Regions from separate parts of the Homo sapiens genome. Here region 1 is linked to region 2. The links come from fine-mapping of genetic effects on gene expression. A gene starts in region 2. The other region holds a variant in brackets. All regions are shown on one strand. Distances are from middle to middle.

Region 1 (15,116 bases), 21 kb before region 2:
CTCGTCTCAAAAAAAAAAAAAAGAAAGAAAAGAAAAGAAAAAGGACACGAAATTGTGATACGACAACTCTGTGAAGACTACTAGATACATTACAAAATTTTTAATAGTAGTACTCTACGTGGCATTCTGGTAGAAATGATTTCCTTTCCTCAAACTCCCCATAATATTGTTACATGGTTTTTATACGGTCTGGGGGATGGGGGATAACATTAAATGACACCTTTTATGTTAAATCACAAACGCTGGAGTCAACAAAAGTTCTTTAAATTCCTCCAGCAGTAGAGCAAACTTGGTATTCCAATTCCCTCCAGGCTTTGACCAAGAGCGCACACGAGGGCCACCGCCTTCGTGATCAGAAGCGGGTATGACTGGGCACCGGTTGGTCCACTGCGGCTGTTCCAAGCTGCCCCCACAGCCTCACCCCAGGACTCCACCAGGAGCACAGGGAAGGGGTCCCCGAAAGTGGGCGAGGTCGCTGCCCGGAGGTAATGACCACTCCAAGGTCACCATGGAGAACCCGCAGACAGGGCTCGGTGTGGCCCAGGACTCCCCGACTCTTAAGTCCAGGTCTCACTCTCTGCGCCGCGCCGCGCCCCTCGCCCCATCCCGAGCAGCTACCCCGAAGCTCCCAGGGGCTCCGCCGAGGCGAATCCTCACATTGCGGCGTGGTGGCCGACAAAACCCGGGACCCTGATCTTGGCGCCTCCACGCCACCGCCCGGAGGCCAAGACCCCCGAGCGCCGCAGCATAGCGTAGCCCAGACCAGTCACCTCATCCTTTTTCGCCCTCTCAACCCAGCTTTTCCCGACTCCGGGAAGAACCGGGAAGAGAAGGCGGAGGGGAGCGAAGCGCCGCCTGATAAATACTGTGGCCCAGTCCCGCCCCCCTAACGTCACTTCCGCCCCGCGCCAAGATGGCGGCGCCCAGGCCCTGCCACGCAGACTTCCGCCCGGCGCGGAGACCGAAGGCTGGCGGCTGGTCGCGTTGCAGGTGAGGTTGTGACGCGCGGTGTGGAGCCGCGGCCCGGGTGCGTCCCTGTCTGGTTCCTGGGCGGGGTTCCTGGAGAGGGCGTGTCGCGAGCCAAAGGCTCTCACCTGGGTGGTCCCGGGAGTCTCGCCACGTGGGAGGGGAGGAGCTGAGAGGCCACTGGAGGGACGCACCGACTGGGGGACCGGAAAGCAAGGGGGTGGGGTTCCGCCAGGGTCCGCGTGTCAGTCCCCTCTGGTGATCTCGTCGCCCCTTCTCTCCCAGGCAACATGTCGGAAGGAAACGCCGCCGGCGAGCCCAGCACGCCGGGAGGGCCCCGACCTCTCCTGACTGGGGCCCGGGGGCTCATCGGGCGGCGGCCGGCGCCTCCCCTCACCCCCGGCCGCCTTCCCTCCATCCGTTCCAGGGACCTCACCCTCGGGGGAGTCAAGAAGGTACCCAACGGCGCGTTTCTAAAGAAACTCAACTACCTTGAATTCCAAGCCCCAGGATTCAACTAATGTTTGTGTAGGACCTACTGTGTGTCAGGACTGTCGTTGGGCCTCTCAAGCCTACCCCTCTTTAAATTCTAGGGAGTCTGTCCTACCTTCAAATCTAGGTACTGAGTACAAGATGTTGAAATGACTCCCAGAGGTGGTTGAAGGGCAGAGAATCCTAATAAGTTAAAGTCGTTCAAAAGCAATTTGAACAGTGTTTATTTACTTTTATTGTGTGTTTGGACATCTTTAAGAAACCCATGAAAGCCAGACAGGCATAAACTTCGCAGTCTTAGAGGGTTCAGAATTCACCATCTCTGTGTGCAAACTTTTTATCTAGAGTATGATGAATCCTAGGTATGGCATTCGAGGCTCTGTGGCCTCTCCCATGTGTATATGACTGTGGATGTCAAGAGTAGCCCAGAAAGGGGTGGGGTCAGGATGACAGAAGAACAAAGCAGGTTTTGGTTTTGGTTTTGGTTTTTTTTGAGAGGAAGTCTCGCCGTTGTCCCCCAGGCTGGAGTGCAATGGCACGATCTCAGCTCACTGCAACCTCTGCCTCCCAGGTTTGAGCGATTCTCCTGCCTCATCCTCCTGAGTAGCTGGGATTACAGGCGCCCGCCACCATGCCCAGCTGATTTTTGTATTTTTAGTAGACACAGGGTTTTGCCATGTTGGCCAGGCTGTTCTTGAACCCCTGACCTCGTGATCCGCCCGCCTGCCTCGACCTCCCAAGGTGCTGGGATTACAGGTGTGAGCCACCGCTCCTGGCCGAATAAAGCGGTTTTTTGGTTTTTTGTTTTGTTTTTAAGGGAATCTCTTTCTGTCGCCCAGGCTGGAGTGCAGAGGCACCATCTCAGCTCACTGCAACCTCCGCCTCCCGGGTTCAAGCGATTCTCCTGCCTCAGCCTCCCGAGTAGCTGGGATTACAGGGGCCCGCCACCGCGCCCAGCTACTTTTTGTAGTTTTTAGTAGAGACGGGTTTCACCATCTTGGCCAGGCTGATCTTGAACTCCTGACCTCGTGATCCACCCACCTTGGCCTCCCAAAGTGCTGGGATTACAGGCATGAGCCACAACGCCCAGCCATAAAGCAGTTTTTAAAAACCTAACTTTGCCTTGGAAAATTGTGGTGACAGTCCATAGTCACCTGATTGAAAGTGTTGGCAGATCTATGGCCTTCCCTACTTAGGCCTTGCTGCTAGAGCTGTTCCCCCATGATACTGACTGGTCTCTATAGCAGTTTGAAGAGAAGAGGTGAGACCAGAGAAATTCCTTTGCTTTTAGAAGTCCCAGAGGATCTTCTTTCAGAGGCAGAACCTAAGGCTGCTGGTTAAAAGTGGGTTTTGGTGCCCCCTTCTATGTGTAACTCCACTGCTACCACACTATGACATTCCTCCTTTTCAGGCACATGTGTATCTATAAAACTGACAGCACTGTGGAATGTGCCAACGAGAGCCGTGGTGGCCTTGGTCTGTAGAAGATGCCCTTTGGGAATTTTTATTTTCCTCTGTACTTTGGGGTCAGAACCTAACACATCAGTGACTCCTGTATTTTGCTTTCAGAAAACCTTCACCCCAAATATCATCAGTCGGAAGATCAAGGAAGAGTAAGTAGCTAGGCCTTCTGAATACTTGCCCCTTATTTACTTGCTCTGAATTTGGGGCTTTGGGGGAAATAACTAGGTTTGTAGCTCCAAAATTTAAATTTATATCTTTAGTTCTTTTCACTAGTGATTTTCAACCCTGGCTCCTAGGTGATTCTGCAAGCTTTAAAAAATAAATAAATAAATAAATAATTACTGGTGTCTAGGGTTCCATCTTTAGAAATTGTGATTTAACTTGCTGGCAGTAGAATGGAGTGATTCTCTTTGTTGCCCGAGTTGAGAGCCAATAGTTTAAACAAAGATGTATCACACTTTCCCTGAAGTTCCTTTGCATTTCTGCCTTCCTGCTTTCAGTCCCAATGCAAACAAAAATCTATATTTTTGGACAAGAAGGTAAAGTAAAGCAAACTGAAAAAATCCTGCCTCATCAAGGAAGTGAGAAAAGTGCTAGAATTAGGATTGGATTCTGCTTCTCATGGTGTAAATATTGGCTCAAACTCTCCACTGTTTTGGAGTGAAGTGGTATGGGAGAGTAAGGCCAGATTTTGGAGACACAGTGAGTGAGTGGTTTCCCTTAATCCATTCTTTTTTCCAGGCCCAAGGAAGAAGTAACTGTCAAGAAGGAGAAGCGTGAAAGGGACAGAGACCGACAACGAGAGGGGCATGGACGAGGGCGAGGCCGTCCAGAAGTGATCCAGTCTCACTCCATCTTTGAGCAGGGCCCAGCTGAAATGATGAAGAAAAAAGGTATAAGGAAGGAATCAGTGAATTTCAGTTCAGACTGCCCCAGAGAAGGGCGAGAACAGTGGAATTTCCCCACTCCCATTTCCGTTTTCCTTGCTGTTGGGCATCTTCCTTATCGATCCCTAGTGACCTGGGTGATTTCCCACAGGGAACTGGGATAAGACAGTGGATGTGTCAGACATGGGACCTTCTCATATCATCAACATCAAAAAAGAGAAGAGAGAGACAGACGAAGAAACTAAACAGATCTTGCGTATGCTGGAGAAGGACGATGTGGGTACCAGGAGGCTGGGGGAAGGGGTTTCCTTGTGGCTGTAGAACAGGGCTTCTGGGGAGCCAGGTGAGGGGTAGAAGAGCTTACTGATGTCCTGGAATCCTGGGGAGCAGCGGAATCTTTGGTTAGAAAGGGACTAAAGCAGACTTTGATCCAGGTGCATGTGCTAGCAGGCTGGATGACCCAGACTCTCTTTGGCAGTTCCTCGATGACCCCGGCCTGAGGAACGACACTCGAAATATGCCTGTGCAGCTGCCGCTGGCTCACTCAGGATGGCTTTTTAAGGAAGAAAATGACGAACCAGATGTTAAACCTTGGCTGGCTGGCCCCAAGGAAGAGGACATGGAGGTGGACATACCTGCTGTGAAAGGTACTCTGTCGGTTAACTTCTCATCTCCAATTCCATGGCTGCTCCCCAGGAATCCCGTGCATCAGGCATCCCTTGCATGTGCCCCTGACTGCTGCTCGTGAGCAGGTCCTCCCATTCCGGCTGTAAGATACATGAGCTGAACAAAGATGCTCCATTCTCCCTCGCAGAGGGTTCCTGTGTTGACAGGGAGCAGTGGGCCTAGCCTCAGATGTCCCTTTTTAGATAAGTCATGTGAGACTTGAACGTGTTGTCTCTTGCCCCTCTGTATAACTGGTGCCTCCTTCCCACTCCCTGGCTGAGTGACAGTGGAGCAGACAGGGGCAAAGGGCTGGTAACAGTGAGCTGGTATGGAGGGTGGTCACTTGATAGCATTCCATGTCTATCACCCGGGCAGTGAAAGAGGAGCCACGAGATGAGGAGGAAGAGGCCAAGATGAAGGCTCCTCCCAAAGCAGCCAGGAAGACTCCAGGCCTCCCGAAGGATGTATCTGTGGCAGAGCTGCTGAGGGAGCTGAGCCTCACCAAGGAAGAGGAACTGCTGTTTCTGCAGCTGCCAGACACCCTCCCTGGCCAGCCACCCACCCAGGACATCAAGCCTATCAAGACAGAGGTGCAGGGCGAGGACGGACAGGTGGTGCTCATCAAGCAGGAGAAAGACCGAGTACGCTCAGACAGAGGCCTGCGGGAATCAAGTCGGGGACTGGGACGGGAAGTGGTGACCTGTAGTGGGAAGCAAAGCCGTGTCACCCTGGCTGAAATGGGACAATAATGGGTGGTTATTCTTGACGCCTGCAAGAGCCATGGGGCTTTGTACCTCCAACCCCAATTGTGTATGTGTTGTGGGGGTGTGTGTTCACTTCTTATAAGGAAATATTTCAAACACAAATGAGAGAACATATGGCCAGATGCGGTGGCTCATGCCTCTAATCCCAGCGCTTTGGGAGGCTGAGACAGGAGGATCACTTGAGCCCAGGAGTTCGAGACTAGCCTGGGCAACGTGGTGACACCATGGCTAATACAAAAATTAGCCAGGCATGGTGGCGTGTGCCTGTAGTCCCCGCTACTTGGGAGGCTGAGGCGGGGGAATGGCTTGAGTCCAGGAGGCAGAGGTTGCAGTAAGCCTAGATCATGCCACTATACCCCAACCTTGGCGACAGAGTCAGACCTTGTCTCAAAAAAATAAGAGAACGTAAACCGCCATGTACCAGAACTCAGCTTCAGCAGTAACTGATATTTTGTCCGTGTATGTATTTGTTTGCTGTGGGTTTTGTATTTTAACCATAGCAGACAGCCCTAGGAGAAGGCACTCTTTGGGGAGCTCATTTTGACCTTTGCTGTGCCTTTCTCTTGGGGAGTAGAAGGGGGTTCATGAAAGATGGAGGAAAGAGCTCCTAGCCCAGTGTCCATCCTCTGGTTTTCTCCGCAGGAAGCCAAATTGGCAGAGAATGCTTGTACCCTGGCTGACCTGACAGAGGGTCAGGTTGGCAAGCTACTCATCCGCAAGTCTGGAAGGGTGCAACTCCTCTTGGGCAAGGTGACTCTGGACGTGACCATGGGAACTGCCTGCTCCTTCCTGCAGGTAAGAGCCTCCTTAGGGGCAAGGAGGGACCCTTTCAGGAGTGAAGGAGGATTGAAGAGCCACTGCTAAATAAGGGAGGGGGTTTCTGGGAGTATCATGTCCCCATTCACAGCTCTACACGCCGGGCACGTGGTGGTGGTTCTCATCACTGTCTCTGTTAATTGGCAGGAGCTGGTGTCCGTGGGCCTTGGAGACAGTAGGACAGGGGAGATGACAGTCCTGGGACACGTGAAGCACAAACTTGTATGTTCCCCTGATTTTGAATCCCTCTTGGATCACAAACACCGGTAAAATGAGCAGGTGGAGGAGGACGGCGCCTGTGCCCACGGCTGCTGCCTGCTCCAGACATTTTGTTCTTGAATCTGTGAGACCCAGAAGGGGCCCACTGAGCCCACTCACTCCAGCCTTTGGCAACCATTGTTCCAGGTCCCCCAGGGCTTCCTCCCACAGCAGCTGTGAATGGCACAGTGACCTTCCTGCAGCGTGGAGATGGCACATCCTTGCTGCTGGGGACTTGGCCCTGCTATTTATTTTTGTATTTATGTCTTAATCTCTTCCACTGATGCATCCTCCAAGGGTAGATGGGGAGGGTCTGTGTGAAGGGGCCGGCTTCTCTTGGTGCCTGCTGGGTTGCAGGGGCAGGAAGCGTGTGGACTGCAGCTTCTGCTGGTGCTCCCCCCGTCCTCCTGGAGGCAGTATAGGAGAGAGAGCAAGGATTGAGTCTGAGACTTAAGCACTCGGTCCCAGCTTGCCAGTTCCTGGTTCTGTGTCCTTGGACAAACTACCTAACCTTTCTGAGCCTCCTATACCTCATCCGACACAAATGGGGATGATACCTACCTCCAGGGTTGGCGTGAGGATTCATGGGCT[A/C]TTATAGATGAAAACTGCACAAGGCCAGAACCAGCAGGCACTCAATAAACGTTCATGTCCTTTTTCTCTACCTGAGTCTATTTTCAAACAAAATAGAGATTCTAAATCTCCCAGAAGCAGCGACTAGAGCTGCTCCCGTCCCCACTCTTGCCCCTTCCTGCTTTATATCCCGTCCTCACCCTGGGCCTGATGCCCTAAATTTATGGTGTCAGATTGTTCTATGCCTTTTTCTCCTGGCTCCTGTTAGCCAGGTGCCTCCTGTGTGAGTTACTGTAATAGCTGCAGGTAATAGAAAGGAAGAAGTCAGAGACCCCTCCCAGCACCCTACAAAAGCCTTTGGGGGACATGTTGGGCCCAGGACATGTTCCCTGCACTCTTTCCTTTGCAGTTAGTACTCATGTATGAGCCGAAGTCATATATTGCTAACAAAAAAACTAAATCCTTCATAAGAGAAGTTAGGGATGTATTGAATAATGGCCTCTTTGACACTTGGCCGATGATGCCCACTTCAAAAACTTTGGGTTTCAGAGGCCTGCCCGTCTCCTGTCCTAGCACTGCCAGAGCCACCTACTCAGTGTTACTTTTTTGGGTCTGTGATCCTGTTCCCTTTACCAGGTCATTGTACTGTGTTGTCCCTGGAGGAACAGCTTCTCCTCTTGTCTTGACAGTAGGGCTGGGGTTTTCCCTGGTTCAGCTGGGGAGACGTTTGCAGGTTAGAAAAAGGTCTCATGCGGCAGCGTGTGTGGCTGTTAGACGCTGATGGCACAACTTCCCTTTGCTGGCGTCGTGGCACCTGGCCTCTGGGACAGTATGAACCATAGGGGCTCAGGAAGAACCGCTTCCCCTCCACCCCCATCCCTGATTCCTAGTGGCCCCTTAGATTTTGGGTACATCTTCCTTCAGGCTCACCTTCCTTCTTTTCAAAGTTCCTCAAGCCTGTTACTCATTTGTCAAGGCTGGGCTTCTCCTACAAAGCCCTCAACCTGCCCAGCCAGCAGCTGTGAGGCTGACTGAATATTTGGTGACCATATCACCCTTTCTGGTGCTGAAGCTCATGTCAGCTCCATTGGACAGTGTTATTCTGGGCTCTTCTCACTGTAGAGGACTGGAGCAGAAAGGGTTCCTTGGAAACCTGTGCTGGGAAGCCCTGTTTGGTCTAAGGCTAAGCTTTGGTTAACTCTGGGCTCCAGCCCTTTCTTCCTTTAAATAGCTGATGCACGGCCAGCAGGTCTCCATTCTCATCCTCTCTTTCTATTCTGTTTCTTTGGTTCAGAAATACTCTTCTGCTTTTTTTGGACGAACTCAATGGCCCGATGTTAGATATTGGGTATTTTTCAATCTTCTGTTTTCTGACCCTTCCAAGAAAGTTTGAGGAAGAACATGTACTGCTTTCACGTTCATTTCGCCCATTCAGATGTCTTGGCTTGAACCTTATGACTCCGTATCAAAGTCCTCACAACCTGTCTCAGATCCCTGATGCACAAATTAGGTCTTATTAATAAGTGTGGGAAAAGAGAGGAGAGTCCACCTTCTTGGTCAGGCCCCTGAGGCATGCATTTCTACCAAGGAATATGGACAGATGACAGAGGAGAAGAGCCCAAAGCCAAATTTATACATGAGTGCAAGTGGATGCAAATTTGTTGCTCCCTGCATCTGTGTATATGCTTTCTGTTAAATACAGAAAGAAGGAACAATAGGCTTGCACACTTTTCTAACTACATGTTTAAGTGGCAGAGTCCAGGCTGTCGAGTCACGGTTGGGTTTGAATCTGACTCCACCAGTAACTTTGGTTGGAAAAAATCACTTATCCTCTTTAAGCTTGATTTTATTTATTTTATTTTATGTAAGAGTGAGACAGTAGTAGCTTAATAGGGTTGCTTTTAAATTAGAGTGAACATGAGGCATTTATTCGGTGCCAGACAGATAACTGCCTATAACAGGATGTGATCAGCACAAGTAACAGAAAATTAGCCTGACGGTGGCTTAAGCAATGGGAATGTTTATCTCACATAGCAAAAAGTCTGTAAATAGATGGTTCTAGAGTTGGGTGGAAGCCAAAATGTCATCAGGATTTCCTTGGAACCGTCTGCTTTGCCATCCTCAGTATTGCAGAATGGCTGCTCCTGCGCCAAGCATCATTCTGCAAATGATGGTGTCCACAGCCAGAGTGGACAGTAGTACAGGAGCCTTCTCATTCTGCCCTTATCCGGGAATAACCGTCAGCAGCTCCAGCAACCTCCCCCCTGTCTCTTTATAGAGTGGGGCCACGTGCCCACTCTTGGACCAGGCCCTGGCAAAGGGGGATGGGTCGACTAGTGTATCCCCTGGCACTGAGCACACTTGCCCTTGAGCTGGGGTTTTGTTAGTAGGGAGGAAGCTGGAGTGGCAGTTGGATAGACAATTCATAGTAGCTGCTGCCATGTTCAAAAAATGCTGCAATGTAAAATCATAAAGTATTCATCTAGGCATAACTTTTTAAAATATTCAGTCACCTTTTATTCTACTAAAATCAATTTTAACATTTTAGTGTATATTATTTTATTTTAGATTCAGCAGGTACATGAGCATGTTAGTTTTGTTTTGTTTTGTTTTGTTCTGTTTTGTTTTTTGAGATGGAGTCTCACTCTGTCGCCCAGTGGTGTGATCTTGGCTTACTGCAACTCTGTCTCCCAGGTTCAAGTGATCCTCCCGCCTCAGCCCCCCAGATAGCTGGGATTACAGGCACATGCCACCACACCTGGCTAATTTTTGTATTTTTAGTAGAGACGGGAGTTTCACCATGTTGGCCAGGCTGGTCTCAAACTCCTCACCTCAAGTGATCTACCTGCCTCAGCCTCCCAAGTGCTGGGATTACAGGCGTGAGCCACTGCGCCCAGCCACATGTGCGTGTTTGTGTATATTGCGTACTGGTGGGGATTGGGCTTCTGTCATACCTATCACCCAAATAGTGAACATTGTACTCAGGTAGCATTTCAACCCTTGCCCCCCCTCCCACTCACCCCCTTTTGGAGTGCCCAGTGTTTGCTATTTCCATCTTTATGTCCATAGGTACCCATTATTTAGCTCCCACTTATAAGTGAGAACATGTGCTATTTGATTTTCTGTTTCCGAGGTTAGGATAATTACCTCAAGCTCCATCCATGTGGCTGCAAAGCACATGATTTCATTGTATTTTATGACTGCTCATGTATATTATTTCAGCCTCCAAAATTTTGTATGTTATTTATAATGATATAAATTATGTGGTTTTATCGTGTACTCTATCTCACTCAGAAATACATACAATTCTTCGTTCCCAGCTACTCTGGAGCTGAGGTGGGAGGATCACTTGAGCCCAGGAGTTCAAGACCAGCCTGGGCAACATGGTGAAACCTTGTCTCTGAAAAATAAATAATACACACCCACATGCACACACATCCAGTTCTTCCATGTTAATGAGTATGTTGTGTTTCACATACTTCTGAATTAGCCGAAGGAATTAAAGGTAGCATCTTTTAATCCTCAGACTGCCCTGCGTGGTCCGATTGAATTGGGCAGTCAGCACTAGGCTCTTCAAAGGGAAACAGGCTTCTTTCTTAGGACGGTGCACAGTGAAAGAGTGGCACACACGCTGTTCATCCAGTGCTCCAACCCCCAGTCCTGGTGTCAGATACTTCTACATTTGGGGCATTTCCCCTTGAGATGGCTGTGGCTAGCGACACATGATGTGAACACCTCTCTTGGATTGTGGTTCGGCCGCACAAGGCCCCATCAGAGTTCTACAGGTGGAGTGTGGGGCCCAGAAGGGGCTCAGGTCTTAGGGGTGTCATCTGAAAAAACAGAGATGGTGATGGGACACCAGTTCTAGGAGCCCTCTGCATGGCCACTTTCTGCCTCAGCTCTTCTAAAGCATTTCTTCTGTTCCCTTCCATTGGGGTAACCACTGATCTGTCTTCCCAAAAACTGAGTCAGAAGTTGGACTTTGTTACTTGGCTCATCTACATTTAAGATATAGTCAGAAAAAAAATGCAGTCTTTACATCTTAAGAAAGCTTACATGGGCCAGGCGCAGTGGCTCACACCTGTAATCCCAGCACTTTGGGAGGCCAAGGTGGGCGGATCACCTGAGGTCAGGAGTTCGAGACCAGCCTCAACATGGAGAAACCCCGTCTCTAGTAAAAATACAAAATTAGCTGGGCGTGGTGGTGCATGCCTGTAATCCCAGCTACTTGGGAGGCTGAGGCAGGAGAATTGCTTGAACCTGGGAGGCGGAGGTTGCGGTGAGCCAAGATCACGCCATTGCACTCCAGCCTGGGCAACAAGAGTGAAACTCCATCTCAGAAAAAAAAAAAAAAAAATAGAAAGCTTACATGAAAGAAAAAGAAAAATGCAGTCTTGATCACTGTTGGCCTGGAGACTTTATCTTGTGTGTTTTCCAGGGCGTGCATGAGGTTTCACTGGACAAGTAGAAACCATTCTAGGTATTCAGAAAGAGTTAATACAAGAAGAGAAGTTTATAGACTCGTTGGAAGGCTGGAGGAGTGAGCCATAGGTTAAGCATCCAGGAATCAGCACCCCCTAGAACAGATGGTGAGGGAGCTACACCCTCTGCCACAATCAGGAGGGTGGAGACTCAAGCTCGACTGAGTTCCGGAACACAACACACTGCCACAGCTGCCAGCCAGGGGTGAGGGAATCCCACAGCCCCAGCTGCCTCTGGGGAACCATACAGCTGTAGCTGGACCCTGGCACACCTGAAGAAAGTGCCTGCTGTGTGCTAGGCACCCTGCAGGAGTTAGGAAAGCAGTGGTTAGGGGCTGTGTCCTGCTGGAGGAGCCTGCACTCTAGTGAGGGAGACAGGATAAGCTTAAGGAAGGACGTTAAAAGGTGACAAGAGTTTGGGAACTTGCAGGGAGCAGGGGATTCTGGGTGGTGGCGGGCATGTTGCAGCAAGTAGGGTAGGTCTCCTTGAGAGGGTATCGTTTGAGGAAGTGAACCAGCGGGATCAGATGCAGGTGGGGAGAGTGCTCTGGGCTGAGTGAAGAGTAAGACAGAGACTGGCTGGAGCTGAGGGAGTGAGAGGGGTGGGACCTGGCCCTGGAGGGCTTTTAGGCCATGGTAGGGACCTTGGCTTTATTCTTTTTTTTTTTTTTTTTTTTTTTTTTAGACGGAGTCTCGCTATGTTGCCCAGGCTGGAGTGCAGTGGCGTGATCTTGGCTCACTGCAACCCCCACCTCCCAGGTTCAAGTGATTCTCGTGCCTCAGCCTCCTGAGTAGCTGGGATTACAGGCACCCGCTACCAAGCCCAGCTAATTTTTGTATTTTTAGTAGAGACAGGGTTTCACCAGGTTGGCCAGGCTGGTCTCAAATGCCTAACCTCAGGTGATCCACCCGCCTCGGCCTCCCAAAGTGTTCGAATTACAGGCGTGAGCCACCACACCCAGCCCGGCTTTATTCTTAAAGTGACCTGGTGAGCCAGCTGGTGTGGAGATGAGGCGGGAAGCAGGGCTGATGGAGTCCCTGGACAGTGGATGGCAGTGGCTTGGCCAGGCCGCTAACAGCAGGGGCACTGGGAAGTGATTGGATTCTAGATACTGATTTCAAGGGTAGCACACACGTGATCTGCTGATAGATTCCATGTCAGGTGTGAGAGGGAGGAGAGTCAAGCTCATCCACAGCTCTGGCAGCGGAAGACGGCCAAAGTGAAGAAGGTGGCCTCAAGTTTACCTCCACCTTCCAAACCTCAACTGGTAAAACCTCATGCATGCCCAGAATGCTAGCACAAGAGATTTAGGGAAATGTGGGTATTTTGCTTTCTGGCCCTGCAGTTCAGGTTCCACCTTATAAAATGGGAGTGGCGTGGGTGGTGGGCGCCACCAGCCATATTCACGGGAGTTAGCATAAGGGTTCACAGTTTGAGTGAAGCTTCCTGAGACTGTGCCGTGCTGCCAACACAGTTCTCTCCGATTCATTCCCTCAAAACAGTATATTCCCAATGAAAGCACGACCAGTACTTAAACTAGCCATGTTCAGTGTGGCTCTCAGACCTTTCCCCAGGGCAAGATGATCACAAGAATTCCTTTAGGAACGTCTCTTAAATTGTACAACTAAAGTTTAATGGTTATATTAGAATCCGTCTTCGTACTATGAAAATTCACCCAACTGATCTCCCATTTCTGGGATATTTAGATTTTTTCTAGTTTTTCATCGTTTAAAAAATGATGCAGCCTGGGGTGGTGGCTCATGTCTATAATCCTAGCAGTTTGGGAGGCCAAGGCTGGTGGATCACTTGAGCTCAGGAGTTTGAGACCAGCCTGGGCAACATGGTGAAACCCCATCTCTACCAAAAATATAAAACTTAGCCAGGCATGGTGGCTTGCTCCTGTACTCCCAGCTACTTGGGGGGCTGAAGTGGGAGGATTGCATGAGCCCAGAAGTGGGAGGTTGCAGTGAGCTGAGACGAGATCGCACCACTGCACTCTAGCCTGGGTGACAGTGAGAACTTGTCTCAAAAAATAAATAAATAAATAAAATCCATTAAATTGCCAGTGTCCTCAATTATTTCCTTAGGAGTCTCTATTTAAAATGGTTTTCCTGACCAGACTGGGCAATGTAGCAAGACCTGGTCTCTAGAAAAAAAAAATTTTTTTTAATTAACTGGGCGTGGTGATATGAGGTTATATAGCGCCAGCTACTCTGAAGGCTGACGTGCGAGGATCAGTTGAGCCCAGGAGTTTGTTAAGTCCAATCCTATGAGATTTTTAAGGATTTTGATAGATTTTTCCCTCCAGAATGTTTGCATCTATTCACATGTGCATCAGCAGTGCATTTGTAGTTAAATGTGTAGTTAACGTTCTGTTTTTAAAACTATACAAATGTTGGGCCAGGCGCCATGGTTCCTGCCTGTAATCCCAGCACTTGGGAGGCCAAGGTGGGTGGATCACTTGAGGCCAGGAGTTTGAGACCAGCCTGGCCAAAATGGTGAAACCCTATCACTACAAAAAATAAAAAATTAGCTGGGCCCATGGTGGCACGCGCCTGTAATCCCAGCTACTCAGGTAACTGAGGCCCAAGAATTGCCTGAACCAGAGAATTGCTTGAAGCCAGGAGGCGGAGGTTGCAGTGAGCTGAGATCACGCCACTACACTCCAGCCTGGGGGACAGCGTGAAACTGTGTCTCAAAAAAAATATATATATATATATACACACACACACACACACACACACACACGTACATGTGTGTGTGCATGTGTGCAAATGTTGGGCCAGGCAGCGTGGTTCCTGCCTGTAATCCCAGCACTTTGGGAGGCCAAGGTGGGCGGATCACCTGAGGTCAGGAGTTCGAGACAAGCCTAACTAACATGGAGAAACCCTGTCTCTACTAAAAATATAAAGTTAGCCGGGTGTGGTGGTGCATGCCTGTAATCCCAGCTACTCAGGAGACTGAGGCAGGAGAATCACATGAACCTGGGAGGTGGAGGTTGCGGTGAGCCGAGATCACACCATTGCATTCCAGCCTGGGCAACAAGAGTGAAACTTTGTCTCAAAAAAAAAAAAGAAAAGAAAATATGGTAAATGCGTGATTTTTATTAAATATATAAACTGATACAATGTGAGTGCTGAAGAAAAAATTCTTATTTCTATGGAAACTAAGGTAAAGGCTTTGGCAAGATTAAAGATGAGGCTGAGCGCAGTGGCTCACGCCTGTAATCCCAGCACTTTGGGAGGCTGAGGCGGGTGGATCACTTGAGGTCAGGAGTTCGAGACCACCCTGACCAACATGGTGAAACCCTGTCTCTACTAAAAATACAAAAATTAGCTAGGCGTGGTGGCACAAGCCTGTAATCCCAGCTACTTGGAAGGCTGAGGCAGGAGAATCACATGAACCCAGGAAGTGGAGGGTGCAGTGAGCCGAGATCACTCCATTGCACTCCAGCCTGGGCGACAGAGGGAGACTCTCTCAAAAAAAATAAAAAAAATAAAAATGATGTGATAGAGGCTGTTGGTTGTTCCTCAATATCCAAATATCCACTCTTTCCTTCTTCCATGATAATGAGCCTTGACTTTTAGGAGGGCACGTACTCATTCAATACAAAGACCACATTCTCAGCCTCTTTTGAGAGCAGAGGTGACTCTATCATTACTTTCTGGACAATGGCATGTAATCATAAACATGGGGCAGTGCTAAGGTTTGGATGTTTGTCACCTTCCAAAATTCATGTTGAAATTTAGTC
Region 2 (13,823 bases):
TAATAAAAGGAATAACAGGTGAGCCGTTTGTCTCCAGGGAGAAGACCGCATTGCACAGGGTGTGGCAGTTGAGTCCATCCAACCTTTGAACCCCTTTTGGGGCTCCTGGCTTACTGCTGTTGATACTTTTTCAGGTTACAGTGCTGTTATCCTGGTCCAATCAACTGATTCTGGCACATGAAACTAGAACTCCTTGAATCTTGTCATTATTAAGTGAGCCTCTTTTTCTCTAATACTACTTTTTTGCTGTAAGGTTTTCATTGTCTGATATTGACATGGCAACTCCAGCTTGCTTGCTTTTTTGAAGGATTAGTGCTTGCTTGATTTTATTTATTTATTCTTATTTTTTATAGAGATGGGATCCCACTCTGTCACCCAGGCTGGAGTGCAATGGCAGGATCCTAGCTCACTGTAACCTCAAATTCTTCTGCTCAAGCAATCCTCTCGCCTCAGCCTTCCAAGTAGCTAGGACTACAGGCATGCACCACCACACCCAGCAAATTTTTTTTTTGGTAGAAATGGAGTCTCACCAGGTTGCCCAGGCTGGTCTTGAACACCTGGCCTTAAGTTATCTCCCACCTTCCAAAGCACTGGGCCTATGTTTTCACCATCTGAATTTCAACCTTTCTCTGTCATTATATTTTATGTCTACTTATGTCTATCTCTATCTACTAAACACTATATAGCTGGATTCTGTTTTTAAAATCCAATCTGATAATCTCTGTTTTTTTTATTTTTATTTATTTATTTATTTTTTGAGACAGAGTCTTGCTCTGTTGCTCATGCTGAAGTGCAGTCGCATGATCTCAGCTCACTGTGACCTCCATCTCCTGGGTTCAAGCGATTCTCCTGCCTCAGCCTCCTGAGTAGCTGGGACTACGGGCACATGCCACCATGCCCAGCTAAGTTTTTTTTTTTTTCTTTTTCTTAGTAGAGACAAGTTTTCACCATGTTGGCCAGGCTGGTCTCAAACTCCTGAGGTCAAGTGATCCACCCGCCTCAGTCTCCCAAAGTGCTGGAATTACAGGGTGAGCTACCACGCCCAACCAATTTCTGCCTTTTGCCTGGAAAGTTCTACATATTTATATTGTAATTACTAACACAGTAGAATTTATTTCTGTCACTTATTTTATGTTTCCTTTTTGTCCGGATTTTTCTGTGATAAATTTTTATTCTTCTTTGCCTTTTTGTTTAGATTAATTTTTTCTCATTTGTTTTTCCTCCACTGACTGGAAATATATAGATTTTATTTCTTAAAAAAAAAATTGAGACAGGGTCTTGATCTGTTGCCCAGGCTGGAGTGCAGTAGCATGATCACAGCTCACTGCAGCCTCGAACTCCCGGGCTCAAGGGATCTTCCCACTTCAGCCTCCCTAGTAGCTAGGGCTACAGGCGTGTGCCACCATGCCCAGCTAATTTTTTTTCTTTATTTTTTGCAGAGACAGGGTTTCACCATGTTTTGTAGGCTCACTGTATTTCTTTAAAAAATTTTAATGTGCATACTTAGTGAGTGTAAAGTTAATTCTTATTACCCTCCTCCAGAACCTTATAATGCTTTTATTATAATTATCTCTCTCCTGACTTATATGCCTATTTGTCTTAACTTCTTGGCTCTATTTTTTTTTTTTTTTTTGGCTGTTTAAAAACTTCATCGTATTGGACATCTCTATGACCCTTTGCACATCTTCTCAGTCTTACCTGTCTCTTTATTTAGCCAGCACTGTGTTGACCAGTTCTCTGTGGGTACCCACTAGGTCTACACAGATACAACCTGATAGTACTTAACCTCAGGCTTGCTCTGTGCATCTTCTTCCTTCTTCCCTGAGACTTTCGTGTTGATGACAAAGCATGGAAAAGGATGGAACACCATGGTGCAACTACAAAGTACCGGGGTTTAACACTCCTTGAGGCGTGTCTTTGACCAAAGGAAAGGAGAGAGTCAATAGTACAAGCATCCTCCTTGCTCCTGTAGGATAGGTGGTCTTGACATGGACTTTATATGGCTTCTCAAATGGTCCTGACGGATAGAGCAACTAGATCATTGTAGCAGTGGCCAACTTCCTAATGCATCTTTGAGTAAGCTCTCCCTCCCTCCCTGCGTCATTCCCCTGTCCCTTACTCCTAGTCCCTGGGATCACACTCTGCAGTAAAATACTTGCACTAAATCTTTGTCTTAGGCCCTGCCTTCTGAGGATCTAGGCTAAGTCATCCATCTATTGGACACAATTATTACCCCTTTATTCAGTCACTTACTACACTCATGATTCCTTTTTTCTTCCCAGACTTTCCTTCTGGGGGCATTTTTTCTTTTTCTTTTTTTTTCCTTTTTCTTTTTCTTTTCTTTCTTTCTTTTTTTTTTTTTTTTAACAGAGTCTTGTTCTATTGCCCAGGCTGGAACACAAAGGCATGATCTTGACTCACTGCAAACTCCACCTTCCGAGTTCAAGCGATTCTCATGCCTCAGCCTCCCAAATAGCTGGGGTTACAAGCATGCTCCACCATGCCTGGCTAATTTTTGTATTTTTAGTAGAGACGGGGGTTCACCATGTTGCCCAGGCTGGTCTCGAACTCCTGGCATCAACTGATCTGCCTTCCTAGGCCTCCCGAAGTGCTGGGATTACAGGGTGAGCCACCTAACCTAGCCCATTTTTTCTTTATCTTCATGTTTAGAAATTTCTTTAGAGAGGTTTGTTGAAGGTAAATCTGTCAGTTTATGTTTCTCTGAAAATGCTTTATTTTACCCTTGTTTTGGAAAGAAAATTTCACTGGCTATACGATTTCTAGGTTGACAGGTTTTTTTCCCTTAACCTCTCAGGCCTGTGGATATATTATACCCTGTCTTCCAGGATTTTCCTATTAATATTACTGTTACTGAATCCACTTTTCACTCATTTATAGATAATGTGTTTTTTCTTTATGACTGCTTTTTTAGATCTTCTCTTTGCCTTTGGTATTCTGCATTACAATGATGATGTGCTGAGTGTAGATTTCTTTTTACTTCTCTGTTTCAGAGTCACTGGTCTTCTTGAAGCTAAAGATTTGTATCTTTCATCAAATCTAAAAAGTTCATACCCATTAAATTGTTGAATATTGCCTTTCCTCTTTTTTCTGTGTTATCTCCATCTCATACTTTATTGGGCCTTTTAACTCTGTTCTCTGTGTCTCTTAGCCTCTCATGTTTCCATCTCTTTGTCTCTGTGCTACATTCTAGGTAAATATTTCAGCTGATCTTCTAATTCATGATGTCTCTCTTTAGCTGTGTATATTCTCTTGTGTAATTTTCCTTTAAGTGTTTAATTTCTATTACTTTATTCATTTTTAGAAGTTCTGTTTTGGTTCTTTTCCAAACTTGCCTCATCAATTTTGGTTACCTTTGCTTTTTTTTTTTTTGTTTTTTTTTTGAGACAGGATCTCATTCTGTTGCCCAGGCTAGAGTGCAGTGGTGCAATCAGAGCTCACTGCAGCCTCGACCTCCCAGGCTCAAGTGATCTTCCTACGTTAGCCTCCCAAGTAACTGGAACTACAGGCATGCACCACCATTCCTGGCCAATTTTTTTTTTATTACTATTGTTTGTAGAGACAGGGTTTTGCCATGTTGCCCAGGCTGGTCTTGAACTCCTGAGCTAAAGAGATCTGCCCGCCTCAGCCTCCCAAAGTGCTGGGGTTACAGGCATGAACCACTGCACTTGGCCTGCCTTTGCTCTTTACTCATTGTTGCAATTGCCACCTTTATTTCTTGAAACATACTGTTTCATATTTATGAAATGTGCTATTTATTTATATTCCGTGTTCAGTGACACTATTTTTTGAAATATTTCTAGATCTGGTTCTGTTCACTGTAGTTTCTCTATGTTATTTTGTGGTGTTTCTTTTTGTTTGTTGGTTTGGTTTTTTTGAGACAGAGTCTCATTTTGTCACCCAGCCTGGAGTGCAGTGGCATGATCTCAGTCACTACAACCTCCGCCTCCCAGGTTCAAGTGATTCTCCTGCCTCAGCCTCCCAAGTAGCTGGGATTACAGGCGTGTGCCACCATGCCTGGCTAATTTTTGTATTTTTAGTAGAGATGGGGTTTCACCATGTTGGCCAGGCTAGTGTCGAAATCCTGACCTCAAGAGATCTACCCACTGCAGCCTCCCAAAGTGCTCTGCTTATTTTTTAATGTGCGTTTTTTTAAAAATGCCTCTATTAAGATATATTTTAGGCTGGGCGTGGTGGCTCATGCTTTAATCCCAGCACTTTTGGAGGCCGAGGCGGGTGGATCATGAGGTTAGGAGTTCGAGACCAGCCTGGCCAACACAGTGAAACCCCGTCTCTACTAAAAATACAAAAATTAGTTGGGCGTCGTGGCGGGAGCCTGTAATCCCAGGTACTCAGGAGGCTGAGGCAGGAGAATTGCTTGAACCCGGGAGGCAGAGGTTGCAGTGAGCCAAGATCGTACCATTGTACTCCAGCTTGGGCAACAGAACTAGACTCCGTCTCAAAAAAAAGAAAAAGAAAAAAAAGATATATTTTACATATCATATCATATAATTTATCCTATTGAATAATTTTTGGTAAATTTAATGAGTGGTGCAAACATTGCCATAAGTCAGTTTTTGAACATTTTTGTCACCCTAATAAAAGCCCTCATGCACATTTACAGTTCATCCTAATTCCCACCCCAGCCCCAGGCAACCATTAGTTTACATTCTGTCTCTATAGATTTATGTTTTCTAGACATTTCACATAAATGGAATCATACAATATGTGGTCTCTTATGTCTGGTTTCTTTCATTTAACATATTTTTTGGGGTTCATCCATGCCATAGCAGTTTGTTCCTTCTTATTGATGAATCCATCCATTGTGTGAATATATACCACATCTTTATTCCTTTTTTTTTTTTTTTTTTTTTTGAGACAGAGTTTTGCTCTTGTTGCCCAGGCTGGAGTGCAGTGGCGCGATCTTGGCTCACTGCAACCTCTGCCCCCTGGGTTCAAGCGATTCTCCTAGCTCAGCCTCCTGAGTAGCTGGGATTACAGGCGCCTGCCACCACACCCAGCTAATTTTTTGTATTTTTAGTAGAGATGGGTTTTCATCATGTTGGCCAGGCTGCTTTCGAACTCCTGACCTCAGGCGATCCACCCGCCTTGGCCTCCCAAAGTGCAGGGATTACAGGCATGAGCCACCGCACCCGGCCGGGATTACAGGCATGAGCCACCGTGCCCGGCCTCCTTTTTTTTTTTAACGCATCCCCATTGTTAAGCATACAAATTTCTGTTTATTCATTTACCAGTTGATGGACATTTAGGTGAAGTTTTTGGCAATTATCAATAATGCTGCTATGAACATTTGCATGCAAGTTTTGTGTGGACATGTTTTCATTTTTCTTAGGTAGCTACCAAGAAGTGAAATTTTGGTTCCTACAGTAATTTTTTTCTTAACTTTTTGAGAAACTGCCAAATGTTTCCCAAAGAGGCTGCATCATTTTACATTCCCACTGGCAATGTCTGAGGGTTCCTGTTCCACCACATCCTTGCTGACTTCTGTTATTCTATTAGTCAGACAGGCCTGCCATAACAAATTGCCACAGACTGGGTGGCCTCAGCAACACACATTTGTTTTCTCACAGCTCTGGAGACTATGATTCTATGATCAAGGTGCTGGCAAATTTGATTTCTGGTGAGTACCATCTCCCTAGTTTATAGATGGCCGCCATCTTGCTGTGTCCTCACATGGCCTTGTCTCTGTGCTTCCATGAAGAGAGAGGGATAGAGATAGAGAAAGATCTCATGTCTTTCTCTTCTGATAAGGACACAAATCCTATCAGATTAGAGCTCCTCCTTACCTCATTTATGTTAATTATCTCCCTACATACTTTATCTCCAAATACAGGGGATTAGGGCTTCAACATAGGTTTTGCAAGGAGGACACAATTCACTCCCTAACATTCCTCCCTCTGTCCCCCGCAAATTCATGTTCTTCTCACATGCAACACATTCGCCCCATCCTAACAGCCCCCAAAGTCTTACACCGTTTCAGTATCAATTGCAAGTCTAAGATCTCATCTAAATACAATAGGCCCTCCCTATCCACGGGTTCTGCATCCATGGATTAAACCAACCACAAATCAAAAATATTTGGAAAAAACAAAAAGGATGGCTGCATCAGTACTGAACAGGTGCAGACTTTTTTCTTGTAATTATTCCCTAAACAATACAGTGTAACAACTATTTATGTAGCATTTACACTGTATTTGGTATTATAATTCATCTAGAGACAATTTAAAGTATACAGGGAAATGTGCATAGGTTATATGCAAATATAAAATACACCATTTTATATAAGAGACTTGAGCATCTGTGAATTTTGGTATCCATGGAGGGAGGTCCTAAAAACCAATACTCTGCAGATACTGAAGGACAAATTCCATTAAATTTTACGGCTCCAGTCAGGGGTGGTGGCTCACACCCATAAGCCACTGAGTTCAAGACCAGCCTGGGCAATATGGTGAAACCCTGTCTCTACTAAAGGGCTTATTAGTTCCAACAAGAGCTGGTTGTTAAAAAGAACCTAGCGCTTCCCTCCCCTCTCTTGCTTCCTCTCTCTCCATGTAATCTCTGCACAGGCCGGGTCTCTTTGCCTTCTGCCATGAGTGGAAGCACCCTGAGGTCCTCACCAGGTGTCCAGTCTTGAACCTTCCAGCCAGCATAACCATGAGCTCGATAAACCTCTTTTCTTTATAAATTACCCAGCCTCAGGTATTCCTTTATAGTAACACTAAAGGGACTAATGGACTGACACAGGTCCACTCACATCTTTTGGCCCCCCCCCCTTTTTTTTTGAGAGAGAGTTTTGCACTTGTTGCCCAGGCTGGAGTGCAGTGGCGTGATCTCAGCTCACTGTAACCTCCGCCTCCCGGGTTCAAGTGATTCTCCTGCCTCAGCCTCACGAGTAGCTGGGATTACAGGCACCACACCAACATGCCTGGCTAATTTTTATGTTTTTAGTAGAGACAGCATTTCACCATGTTGGCCAGGCTGGTCTCGAACTCCTGACCTCAGGCCATCTGCCCACATTGGCCTCCTAAAGTGCTGGGATTACAGATGTGAGCCACCATACCTTTTGCCCATTTTTTTATTAGATTGTGTGTCCTCCTGTTATTCGGCCTGATGTGTTTCGTGAGCTCATATTTATTCATACCTTTTACGTGGGAGTTTTGGGAGCCTGGTGTATTTCTCCTGAAAGGATTTCTAGTTATCTCTGCCAGGAACCCAGACATACTACATAGGTCTACTTTAAATGAAATCCTTCCTATAGGTTTTAGGCCCCACCAGTAATGTAATTTTCTGCCCTTAATCTTGCTGTGGCTCTGGGGATCTTATTTTCTGAACAGCAGCAACAACAACAACAACAAACCAGAATACATGGTTGGAATAGAAATATTTATGGTGACCAAGTGCCCAGGGTATTTGGAGTCATGACTGCCTAGGAAAATTCAGGTTATGTATAGTTATGGGGCCATTTTCACTCTGAATTTTAGAGACTGGCAGGGCCAGGTGGACAGAATTTGGTGTTACGACTTTTTTGAGTTAAAAAAAAAATCTGTGATTTATCTCAAAATACTATCTCTTAGTGTGATATACGTGCTCTTTTTGCCCCTTTCATTTTTAATTAACAAATAGCAATTACATATGGTTATGTGGTACAGTATGATATTCTGATATTTATTTACATTGTGGAATGATTAAACCAAATTAACATATCCATCACCTCACATACTCATCTTTTTGTGATGAGATTATGTGTGTCCTTTTTAATCAATATCCTAGGGATGGCTAATTAACAATTAAAGTACTCTGTTAGGGAATATAATCTCCAAAAGAGGTTGATTAGCTTTTGAAAGGTCCTAAATAGATGTCCACGTTTCAGAAAGCTTCAACCATTTTTATGTCCAATCAACAGCAGGACTATATGGATTTTCCTTTGGTTAAATAAGTAGTGTTAATGATGTCTGGATTAGCTAGAAATACTGTACGAAGGCCACCTACACTTGCATGGATGGACAGGATATAGAAATCTAGGAAACCCAATGTGCATACCCTTTGTAATGGTGCTCTTGGTTTAGGTTCCCAAATAGAAGACATACTCAGGAAATTATCTGAGGATTATTATTCCCTTACTTCAACTAGAAGATTTGCTGAATCCTGCCCCCAAAATATTGTTTCATGTGTATAGAATAAGTGTGTCATGCAAAGTTTGGTCGGAGTTCCTAAAAGAACAAGGAGTTGGATCTTCACGAAAGTTACAAAACAGTTTGTATAACTGTTTTTGACTGCACTTGCTACCATTAAGTATTTGCACAGGCAGGAGAATTGCTTACAACATAACATTGCAACAGCTGCAAGTTAAGAAGGTTGTGTGGTAAAGGAAGTGAAAATGTTAGATCATGGTAAACAAATACTATCTAGGAACAGTGAAGGGGCATCGTGCCAACTGGATTCCTGAGTTGAAAATCATCCTGCTCCAATAATTTTCAGACTATCCTCATTCGGGAAGGATAGGGAGGGCCCTTGTATGTGTGGATTAAAATAAGTCATGGGATATCTGAGGCCTGGAAAAAATAAGGTTAACCCTTCTCTAGTCCTATTCCATGCAGAGCCCTTGGATGTCTCTATAGCATCCGCCAAAGCCTTCAGAAGCTTTACCTCAACCACACTGTAAAACCTGGGTGTGGGAGAGGGATGCAGTTATTTGACAAAATGGTTGGGAGAGGGTCAGAAATCTTTCTTTGGGTAAAATCATTCTGTAGTTGCTGAAGTAACCACTGATAATTTAATCTGCTTCCTAGAAAGCTCTTCTTGGCTCACAGATTTAGGCATCAATAAAAATAGGCAACATTTATCGAGGGTCGTCTTCTCCTTGTGCTAAGTATTTTACATACGTTATGTCATTATGTGTGTACATTTCCATTCAACCCTATGAATGGATGTTTTTAGTTTTTATCTCTGTTTTATGTATAACGAAAGTGATGTGCAGAAATCATATGAATTAGGTGTTTGAATGCGCACTCGAGCTTACCGTTTCTTTTTCACCACCTGTATCGCTAATCCTCTTAACTGGCAGGAATGGGGCAAGTCAATTTCAACACGCGAGTCTTAGGCTAAATCTGTTTATAGGAGTTGCCCCCAGAAAGGGAGTCAGGATCTCCAAACCCTAACACATTTTAACGCTGAGGTTCACATAACTCCCAGCGCTCCTTCCGCACGAACCGCCCCTGCACAGGGAACCTGCTGGAAAGGACGAGCCTCTCTTGCAGATGGGCCAATTAGATAGCTTGCTCTTGTGAACGACAGGTCTTGTGGCCAATGGGCTCATCCCCGGAGGCCTCGAAGAGCGGAAATTGGCCCTGGAGCATGTGGGCCCCGGGGCGTGGGTTGAGCTCGGTCTTCCCCTGAGGCCGCGCGGAGCTGGGCGACTGGGGCGAGGACTCGCGCACAGGTGAGTACTGGCCCCGGTTGCGGCATGCCAGGCAGGCCAGGGTCGCTCGGGGGCGGGCAGGTTGGGTTTTTGCTCAAGCACGTGGGGTGAGCCGCCCTCCCGGGCCTCTCCCCTCCCACTTCGGGGAGCTGCTGAGGGTTGCGGGTCGGGCGGGGGCGGGAAGTCGTTATTCGAGGCCCGGCGCCGCGGCCCCAAGAAGGTGTCCAGGTTGGGGCGGCAGGGGAGGCCCTCCGGAGGCCCAAGTGGACGTCTTATTTGGCCTGAGAGAGGAGATAGAACCCCTGGCAGGGCTGTGGCTTTGGGGAAAGGTGCTTTTCTCGGGGTGGAAAGGGGATGGGACTCGCCTTCGGGGGCCTTGCTTCTGGTTAGGCCCGAGTCGCGAGGCCTCAGCGCGGAGCACGCACCCAGGGATGCGAGGGAGGCAGGCCCAGCCCGTCCTGGGTTCGCTCCCCATTGAACCTTTCGGACAGCCAAGTATCTGCTACCTGATCCCAGGGGGAAACCCACACTGGGAGAGGGCCCTCTGGGGGAGCTACCTGAATCTATAGAAGTGGTGCTGGAGGTTGAGGGAAGCGTGGACAAAGAGGAAGATTCCAGATGTCCCTTAAGGGAGGCCGTCCAGCGCTTCTGAGTATGTAGCTGTTAGCATACTGATTGCTTGGGATTCTTTGGGTGGTGTTGGGGAGGTGTGAGCAGAGTCCTGGCTCACCGAAAAGGGGTGTTAGCAGTTAAATATAGCCTTCAAGAAAGGGAGTCATATCCTGCGTTTAGAGTGTGAAAGAGGATAGTTTAGTTCAATAAATTTTGCAAGTTCCTGAACTGTCTGCACTTACGCTGTGGGTTTATGAATTGTGTGTTAATATTTTCTTTAAATGTATGATTTCTCTGTAGCTAATACTTAAGACAGCTTTTTTGTTTGTTTGTTTGTTTGTTTTGAGACGGAGTCTCGCTCCGTAGCGCAGGCTGGAGTGCAGTGGCGTGATCTCTGCTCACTGCAACCTCCGCCTCCCAGGTTCAAGCGATTCTCCTGCCTCTGCCTCCCGAGTAGCTGGGATTACAGGCGCAGGCCACCATGCCCAGCTAATTTTTGTATTTTTAGTAGAGATGAGGGTTCACCATTTTGGTCAGGCTGGTCTCGAACCCCTGACCTTGTGATCTGCCCACCTTGGCCTTCCAGAGTGCTGGGATTACAGGCGCGAGCCACCACCCCCGGCCAAGACAGCTTTTTGAAAGTTAAGAAGAGGCTTCTCCCAGCATTTGGGGAGTCTGAGGTGAGAGGATCACTTGAGGTCAGCAGTTTGAGACCAGCCTGGGCAACATGGCAAGATCCCGTCTCTACAAATTTTTTTTAAAAATTAGCTGGGTATGGTGGCAGGTGCCTGAAGTCCTAGCTACTTGGGAGGCTGAGACAAGAGGACTGCTTGAGCACAGGAGGTTGAGACTGCAGTGAGCTAAGATGCCACCACTTCACTGTAGCCTGGATGACAGAACAAGACCCTGTCTCTTAAAAAAAAAAAATTCTTTTCCGTTAAGAAATATTTTTCAGGAATCAGGGGCAAGTCAGGACAATGAGAGGAGCCCCTTAAAGAGGGAGTCTTGAAATCTGTAGGTTATAAAGTGATATATATATATATATTTTTTTTTTTGAGACAGAATCTTGTGCTGTCACCCAGGCTGGAGTGCCACGATCTTGACTCACTGCAACCTCCGCCTCCTGGGTTCAAGCAATTCTTGTGCCTCAGACTCCTGAGGAGGGGGGATTACAGGCATGCACCACCATGCCTGGCTAATTTTTGTATTTTTAGTAAAGACAGGGTTTCATCATGTTTGCCACGCTGCTCTTGAGCTCCTGATCTCAAGTGATCCACCCGCCTCGGCCTCCCAAAGTGCTGTGATTACAGGCATGGGCCACCATGCCCGACCTACAGGTTATGAAGTGATTTTGAAGAGACCTGATGGGCTTTAGATTTGGTAGGGAAGCCAGGGAGAGCCTCACCCCGGGTAACCTGGGAGAGAGAAGGGTGTTAAATGCAACCTGTGAGACTGAGCAAGTATTGTAGGCTCAAAGCAGAAAGACTGTGTACTCTGGAGACTTCTGATGGAGTTTGAAAGAAGAGAGTTTTTAAAATTTTTTTTTCTATTTTTTAATTATTTGTAGAGACAGGGTCTCGTTGTGTTCCTAAGACTGGCCTCAAACTCCTGGCCTCAATGGTCCTCCCACCTGGGCCTCCCAGAGTGCTGGGATTACAGGCATGAACCACTGTGTGTGTGTGCTCAGCCTGAAGGAAGAATTTTGTAAAAAAGAATTGGATAGAGATTCGGAGAAGCAGCTAAACAGATCAAGGAAGAGAATTTGGTGCAATCATAGACTGGAAAAAAGTTAGGACTCTTATGTAGGAAAGAGAGGCCAAAAACAAAGCAAAAACCCATAAATATTTGTTGACAATAATTTTATGATATGGCTGTGTTAACTATGAAATTGTTTATAGGCCAGGCACAGTGGCTCACACCTGTAATCCCAGCACTTTGGGAGGCCCAGGTGGGCTGATCGCCTGAGGTCGGGAGTTCGAGACCAGCCTGACCAACATAGAGAAACCCCGTCTCTATTAAAAATACAAAATTAGCCGAGCATGGTGCTGCATGCCTGTAATCCCAGCTACTCGGGACGCTGAGGCAGGAGAATCACTTGAACCCAGGAGGCAGAGGTTGCGGTGAGCCAAGATTGCACCATTGCACTCCAGCCTTGGCAATAAGAGTGAAACTCCGTCTAAAAAAAAAAGGGGGGGAGGAAAAGAAATTGTTTATAAACCAAAGTCATCCTCATACATAAAAACTGCCTTAGCCAGGTGCAGTGGCTCACACCTATTATCCCAGCATTTTGGGATGCTGAGGCAGCAGATCTCTTGAGCCCAGGTGTTTGAGACCAGCCTTGGCAACGTGGCAAGACCCCGTCTGTACAAAAAATGTACAAATTAGCTGGGTGTTGTGGTGCATGCCTGTAGTCCCAGCTACTCAGGAGACTGAGATGTGAGGGTCACTTGAGCCCAGGAGGTCAAGGCTGCAGTGAGCCATGATCATGCCACTGCACTCCAGCCTGGGCGACAGAAGGAGACCCTCCTAAAAAACTGCTTCCTTATACAACAGCTAGTTAACTCACAGGACTGAGTTTTGTGAGAGGCTATTTGGGTAGAAAATATAAGTAAGTTCAAGGAGGACACGGGCCTCTAAGGCAGGGGTTCCCAACCCCCAGGCCACAGGCTGGTTGGGGGGCCTGTTAGGAACTGGGCTGCACAGCAGGAGGTGAGAGATTGGCAAATGAGCAAAGCTTCATCTGTATTGACAGCTGCTCCCCATGGCTTGTAGTATCACCTGAGCTCTGCCTCCTGTCGGATCACTGGTGGCATTAGATTCTCATTGTGCAAACCCTCTTGTGAACTTCGCATTGGAGGGATCTAGGTTGCATCCTCCTTATGAGAATCTAATGCCTGATGATCTGTCACTGTCTCCCATCACCCACAGATGGGACCAGCTAGTTGCAGGAAAACAAGATCAGGGCTCCCACTGATTCTACATTATGGTGAATTGTATAATTATTATATTTCATTATCTATTATAATGTAATAATAGAAATAAAGTACACAATAAATGTAATGTATTTGAGTCACTCTGAAACCATCCCCCCACCCCTGGGTCCATGGAAAAATTATCTTCCAGGAAACCAGTCTCTGGTGCCAAAAAGGTTGGGGACCACTGCTCTGAGGGATTGTTAATGAAGGATGTTTAGAATATTACAGATCAAATAGAAGCCTTTGAAGTGAATATGTTGTAGAAGGCTAGGCGTGTTACTGGACTGACTCAAAATACTATTTTAATGCTTTGTGAGTGTGTCTTGAAGGAAAAGGAAAACAATTGGGAATCTTAATCTTTTGAAAATGATGGCAGGTAATTAACCAGAACAGGATCGACACGTGTTCTCTACAGCCCGTCCATGGATCCTTTCCGACCATCGTTCAGGGGCCAGTCTCCTATCCACCCATCCCAGTGCCAGGCTGTACGGATGCCAGGCTGTTGGCCACAAGCTTCTAAACCTTTGGACCCAGCTCTGGGCAGGGGAGCACCTGCAGGCAGAGGCCATGTATTTGGAAAGCCAGAGGAACCAAGCACACAGAGGGGGCCAGCACAAAGGGTAAGACCACTTCCGGATGCATAGGAGTGGCATACAGCTTACCTGTGTGCCGTCAGAGGAAGTAATGGATTTCAAAGTGCTTGCAGGGCTGGGCACGGTGGCTCACGCCTGTAATCCCAGCACTTTGGGAGGCCGAGGCAGGTGGATCATCTGAGGTCG

Direction of the effects. Positions count from the first base shown, and alleles are read on the strand shown. Sizes are in standard deviations (SD) of each study's normalised expression.
For the expression in aorta of the gene that starts at base 9,242 in region 2, allele C in region 1 goes with a higher level than allele A (small effect, 0.37 SD a copy in GTEx).

Evidence for each region. PIP is the estimated chance that this variant, and not a neighbour inherited with it, causes the effect.
Region 1: its variant is fine-mapped to the expression of PIWIL2-DT in aorta (GTEx, PIP 0.98). The same link has a PIP of 0.9 or more in fibroblasts.

What each region holds. Positions count from the first base shown.
Region 1 is chr8:22,244,194-22,259,309 of GRCh38, forward strand. It overlaps POLR3D (RNA polymerase III subunit D), which reads left to right and starts at 940. Exons shown (of 9, transcript NM_001722.3): 1 at 940-990; 2 at 1,252-1,421; 3 at 3,028-3,071; 4 at 3,664-3,815; 5 at 3,961-4,085; 6 at 4,288-4,456; 7 at 4,851-5,116; 8 at 5,882-6,034; 9 at 6,203-10,408. The coding sequence starts at 1,257. The coding sequence ends at 6,325. It overlaps PIWIL2-DT (PIWIL2 divergent transcript), which reads right to left. Exons shown (of 2, transcript NR_134293.1): 2 at 10,383-10,713. It overlaps MIR320A (microRNA 320a), which reads right to left and starts at 844; the gene lies at 773-844. RefSeq lists enhancers at 715-1,382, 850-919, 2,044-2,213 and a silencer at 1,230-1,409. The variant A/C (reference allele first, on the strand shown) is at 6,905.
Region 2 is chr8:22,265,921-22,279,743 of GRCh38, forward strand. It overlaps PIWIL2-DT (PIWIL2 divergent transcript), which reads right to left and starts at 9,242. Exons shown (of 2, transcript NR_134293.1): 1 at 9,059-9,242. It overlaps PIWIL2 (piwi like RNA-mediated gene silencing 2), which reads left to right and starts at 9,396. Exons shown (of 23, transcript NM_018068.5): 1 at 9,396-9,478; 2 at 13,421-13,664. The coding sequence starts at 13,467. RefSeq lists enhancers at 4,540-4,709, 9,676-10,321.